Linked DNA regions of Homo sapiens: region 1 is linked to region 2. The links come from fine-mapping of genetic effects on gene expression. A gene starts in region 2. The other region holds a variant in brackets. All regions are shown on one strand. Distances are from middle to middle. Region 1 overlaps TESC (tescalcin). Region 2 holds the start of TESC (tescalcin).

The links.
Region 1: its variant is fine-mapped to the expression of TESC in blood mononuclear cells (TOPMed, PIP 0.95).

What each region holds. Positions count from the first base shown.
Region 1 is chr12:117,060,747-117,063,757 of GRCh38, forward strand. All of the region lies in intron 2 of TESC (tescalcin), which reads right to left. Among named protein-coding and RNA genes, the nearest start is that of TESC, 37 kb to the right of the region's middle. RefSeq lists enhancers at 1,667-2,443, 2,444-3,011. The variant T/C (reference allele first, on the strand shown) is at 1,718.
Region 2 is chr12:117,097,896-117,100,645 of GRCh38, forward strand. TESC (tescalcin) reads right to left here and starts at 1,521. Exons shown (of 8, transcript NM_017899.4): 1 at 1,330-1,521. The coding sequence starts at 1,387. TESC-AS1 (TESC antisense RNA 1) reads left to right here and starts at 1,572. Exons shown (of 3, transcript NR_120464.1): 1 at 1,572-1,749; 2 at 2,558-2,745. RefSeq lists silencers at 917-1,016, 1,087-1,196, 1,257-1,776, 1,515-1,653, 2,520-2,737.

The DNA of each region.
Region 1 (3,011 bases), 37 kb before region 2:
CAGCCATGCTCTTACCAGATACCCTGCTGCCCGACTCTCCCTGGCCATCCGAATAGAATCCATTTTCCAAGGCCCAGATCCCTGAGAAAGGGACCACGTGGAGCTCCAGAGGGAATCTGGGAGAACAGAGAAGCCGCTGGCTGCTATGCTGCTAGCCAAACCCTCTCTGGCTTTCACTGGCTGTTGCTAATCCTTCCTGAGTCTGTTTTCTCGTCTGTGAGGAGGGCACACTGATACTGACAGAGGGTGAAGGGCACAGCCTCTGGAATCACACTTGGGCTCTACCCTACTCTGCTACCTGGGTCAAACGGCGTTGCCTCACCCAGCCTCTGTCTACTCCTTTGCAAACAGGAACCTCACAGGGTTGCCGTACAGTTTAGAGGAGATAAAGTCTGCAACATGCTCAGCACGGTGTCTGGTGAACTGGGAGTGCACCACAGATGGCACCTTGCAGGATGGGGACCCTGTGATGTCCACAGCACCCCGTCCTCAGTGCCTTGCACTGCTGGGCTTGGCAAGGTGGTCAATAAATGGTTTGCTGAGCGAATAATGAAGCGAATAATGAAGATGGCTGCACGCAGGGCTTCCCTCTTTGTCTGGCCCATCCTGAGGCACTGCCCTTCCCCAGGTGCCTTCCCCAGGGCCCAGGTGTCCAGACCCTGGAAGGAGAGCAGACCCCAATGTCCCAGGAGAGAGGGAGGAGAGGTGGGGGAGAAACCACCTAGAAGAGCCTGACCCATGTGCCTGGAGAAGAAATTAACTCAACACAAGAGGCCTGTCCCCAACCAGCAGCAACAAGACATGCTTGACCTGCTAGGAATTGAGCTGGGGACACAGTGTCCCCAGGTGCTGGCTTCACAACCCCCAGTGGGTGTGTAAATGGCTCTGAAGCCCGCTGCCTCTGCTCTCTCTCTCTCTCTCCATAGGCACCTGCTACATCCACACCTGACTCTCACCTCCCCCTCACCACTGGTGCCTGACTCTTGGAGCCTCAGTTTCCTCATCTGTGAGATGGGTGCAGACCTAATCCTTCCCATATCAAAGGGGATGGTTCAGGGTCAAACACAAGGTGGGGAGAGGGGTGCTGGCCCAGGCTCTGCCCCTTACCAGGCACATGGTCTTGAGTAATCACAGCATGTCTTCAAGCCGTGATTTCTCATATGTAAAATGGGGATCATAGGAATATCCAGGTAACATGATGGGGCTAATGAGATGATCAAATGAGATAAATCCACATAAGATGCTGAGTAGGCTGCCTGACACAGGATGAGCTCTTAATTTTAAAATAATAACAGTAATAACGGCAGCAGCAGTAACAGTAATCGCTGCAGCAGTATTAATAGTAGTAATAATAATAATGTAACAGCAGCTAACCTACGTACCCTCAAAATGGAAGGAACTATTCTAAGAGCTTTACATTATTACATAGGGTTCACAACAACCCTATAAAGTAGGTACTTATGCCCATTTTATTTTCTTAATTTTTTTTTTTTGAGACGGAGTCTCACTCTGCCGCCCAGGCTGGAGCACAGTGGCGTGATCTCTGCTCACTGCAACCTCCACCTCCTGGGTTCAAGTGATTCTTGTACCTCAGCCACCCGAGTAGCTGGGATTACAGGTACCTGCCACCATGCCCAGCTAATTTTTGTATTTTTAGTAGAGATGGGGTTTCACCATGTTGGCCAGGCTGGTCTCGAACTCGTGACCTCAGGTGATC[T/C]GCCCTCCTCAGCCTCCCAAAGTGCTGGGATTACAGGTGTGAGCCACTGCACCCGGCCTGTGCCCATTTTAAAGATGAGGAAACTGAGGCAGAGAGATGAAGCCACTTCTCATTGTTAAGAATGATACTGGCGGACCCAGGCAGTGGCATGGTGGTTGGTGCCTGGCCTTCAGGGACTTTCCCTAAAACCTGCCAATGTCCCTTTTCAACAAGGAGAGCACCGGCCTTGAGTCCAGCGCTTAGGACAGGCTAACCTTTTCATTTCATCAGTTTCATGCTCCATCAATACTCGTGTCAGTTTTGTTTTCCTTCCTCCCTAGGTCCCCGCCGGGCTGGATGAACCGGCTTTTCTAAAGGTGTCGCAGCCCAGGCTGCAGCCATGGGAACAGGCTCTGCCTCACCTCAGAGCCCAGGGCTGACGGCAGGTCACTGCCCTCAGCCAGAGCTGATTCTCATGGCCAGTGGTGTTGCCCCAGTGACCATCAGGGGTAGCGGGGATTGCCCAGGAGGGCTCCAGGGCCACACACCTTCCAGGCCTCCTGCGGGAGAGCTTGAGCCCTCGGGGCTTCAGAATGTCCCCCTGGAGTCATGAAGGGCTCGCGTGACATCAAGCTGTGCTAAGCACTGCAACACTTAATCACCCCCACATAATCATGAGTGGCAACAATGATGATCCTATTTTACAGACCAGAACACAAGGCCCAGAGAGGCAAAGAGACTAAGCCCCAGTCACACAGCTAGAGTTGGCGCGGGACTCCAGCTCTGCCTCCAGGCTGGCTCGAACCATCTTGCGCTTCCTCACTCTCACCACTTCCTTCCTTCCAGTTGCGCATTTTTACGTTAAAGAGAGAAAGAGCGAGGCATCTGCTCTCACCCAGCCCCCAGCCCTCAGCCCAAGAGGCCCCATCTGGGACCCAGGAAGAGGGCAGGACAAGCGTCAGGCCAACAAGAAGGGAAGGACCAGGCTCAAAAAACCACCGAGGACTGTGCTGGGCTCTTCCTCAAGCCTCGTGGTGTGGGTTGGTTTCCGGTGGCTTTCGGAGCCCAGCTCAGTTGCAAAGTTCTCTCTAGGGGTACTGAGCATGGAGCTCCCCAACCCCCACCAACCACCACAAGGCTAACCGACCTCCAAGGTGAGGGTGCAGCCAGGCCCCAGATTCTCAGGCCGGAACTTCCACCGCTCCAGGGCTCCCTGCACTGAGGGAGGCCACTTTGCCGGGCTGCCTGCCCAATGTCCCTCTGAGTTCCCCTTCCTGCACTGCCTGCCCAGTGCCCCTCTGATTCCCCTTCCTGC
Region 2 (2,750 bases):
TTTAAAAAACAGAAAAAAGGGTACCATATTATATATGCTGAGCCACACCTTTTACTTCTTTAGTTGGATATTTCTATATCTCTACACACACAGAGATACAGATATAGACGTATAAGTGCGTGCATACACACACCAGTTATTAATGGTTTTCTGCAATTTTCATCCAGTTCTCCTGGAAAGGGGTATTTAGATTGGGGGTCAAGAGGGGTTGCTTTTCAGCTGACACACAAACAGCTGGGCCACCCTCTCTTGGTGATCAATACTGGACGCTGGTTCTCTGCACTTGAAGCAGGTGCCAGGAGCTAGCTCTTTCCCAAAATATCTGCAGCTCCCATTTCCTGAGCGTCTACCAGGTACTAGGAGAACTCTTACAACAGAGAAGGAAAGCTGAGAATCAGAGAGGTAAAGTGACTAGCCCAAGGTCACACAGCCAGGAAGTGCAGCTGGCAGGGTTCACAGCCGGTCTGTCGCTCGCCAAAGCCGGTTTGCCCACACACCTGGCCCCCGCGGTCTCCAGTCCACACCCTGGTCCACAGCCAGAGGCAGAACTGGCCATGCCGAGTTCAGGACCCAGGGCCAAGTCCCCAGCCCGGCTGAACTCGGGCAGAGAAGCGCTTTCTCCGCCATTTCCCTGCGGGCAGCTCGGCCAGGCCTCCCAGGGCTCCCCGCCTCCGGGCCGATGCGGGGCGCGCAGCCTTTGCTGGTCCCGGGAGACTCAGCGAACTCAGGGGAGGACGCTGGGCTCCGGGCAAAGTGCTCTGCGGCCGCTGCCTCGCTAAGTCTCCCAGCCACCCGCGGGGATGAGGCTGCCTGAACCCATTTTACAGATGCGAGGACGAAAGCAGGCGCCGGGCGCCGGCTCTCCCGACTAAGGTCACCCGGCCGGGGAGCGTCGGAGACCTGTTCCCACCCAGGTCCGCCGACTTCAAAACTTTCCGCTCTCGCGCTCACGAATGCAAACGACTCTCAGGTGTGGGGCGCGCGCGCCAGCGGGGGTGCCTGAGGGACTTGCCCGCCCGGCCTGAGGCACCTGCCCTGCGCTTGGGAAGCCTGGGCCCCGCTCCCTCCCCGGTCCGCAGTCCCCCGGCCAGGGAGTTCCCGGGCCAGTCCGAAGCTGAGCGGCTGCGGCACTGAGCATCGCCGCGGAGCTCCTCGCCGCAGCCCGCGAGGTGGCCAGCGGGGACCCATTTGAAAGAGGAGGAGACTGAGGCGCAGAGAGGGCCCGCCACTGGCCCAAGGTCACACAGCGCGGCGGCGGGCCGGGGTCCCCAACAGTGGCCGTTCGGAGGTCCCGCCCCGGTCCCCGCGCCGCCCCCCGCGGGTACTCACAGCCGGTCTTGCCCTCGAGCTCCCGCACCTCCTCAGACGCGGAGTGGGCAGCGCCCATGGTGCCCGCGGCGGGGGCCCCGGGGCGCGCGTCCCTCTCAGGCCCCGCACTGGCTTCGGCTGCGCAGCGGCGGGACTGGCCTCGGGTCCGGCCTCGGGTCGGGACGCCGGCGAAGGCTCGGAGCCGCGGGTTCCGCGTGGGGCCGGAGCGGGGCCTCATATAACGGCGGAGGGCGGCGCGCCGCGGTCCTAGCGCACGCCGGTTTCGCGCACTGCGCGGCTAGGGGAGCGCCCCGCCCCGCCCCGGCCCGGAAACCGCCGGGAAGGGGACCCCGGAGCCCACCGCTCTGGAGTCCCCGTTCGTGCAGCAGTGCTCACGTACCTCGTCCCTTCCGCACACCTGCTGGATCTGGAAGGAAGCAGGTGTGAGCAAATTTGGGGGCGTGGGTAGGAGGGGTGGGACCCCTGGGAGGTGCTATGCCCACTCCCAACCCATCCCACCTTACATCCTCCAGATCTTAGGAGGGAAACTCCACTGAGATAGTCAAGGAAGTCAGCGAGCATGAAATAGCTCTATGGAGAACAACAGTAATAATAATCCTATTTGAAAATGCACCATGCGCTTTGGTTTTTTCCAGGAAAGCCCCAGCACCTTCTGAGGTGAACACACCCACGTGGCGGCCCGTGTGGGCCCTGCACAGCCCGGTGGCTGAGAGGCACCTCAAACTGCAGGAGCGGGCTGGGCGCATGGCTCACGCCTGTAATCCCAGCACTTTGGGAGGCCAAGGCGGGCGGATCACTTGAGCTCATGAGTTCGAGACCAGCCTGGCCAACATGGTGAAACCCCGTCTCTACTAAAAACACAAAAATTAGCCAGGCGCGGTGGCACATGCCTGTAATCCCAGCTACTCCGGAGGCTGAGGCAGGAGAATCACTTGCACCTGGGAGGCAGAGGTTGCAGTGAGCTGAGATCTTGCCACTGCACTCCAGCCTGGGCGACAGAGCAAGACTCTGTCTCAAAAAACAAACAAACAAAAAAACAACTGCAGAAGTGGGCCCAGGAGGCTGCATTTGGGACAAACTGCTGGAGAGAAGGCAATGCCGGTGGTCCCCATGCCCATTAGGGAAGTTCTGGGTTAAGATGGCTTGAGGGGTTGGCTCTCCATCCAGTTGGGGTGACTGGGGCCGATGCTGTTGCCTGTGTAATGTGATTCCTCCTCCTTAAAATAAGGATAAGTTAATGAGATGTCCACCAGAGGGCCTGGCGTGGACACAGCACATGGCCACAGAGGCTGGTGGGCGCTATGGAATCTTGTCCCCTGGAGAGGCACACAGCCAGGGCAGAACATCAAGGTCAAGGCTCTCCTGAAGGCTCTGCAGTGCTTAGTGACACCACCATCAATGACCGTCAGGTATCAGGTCTG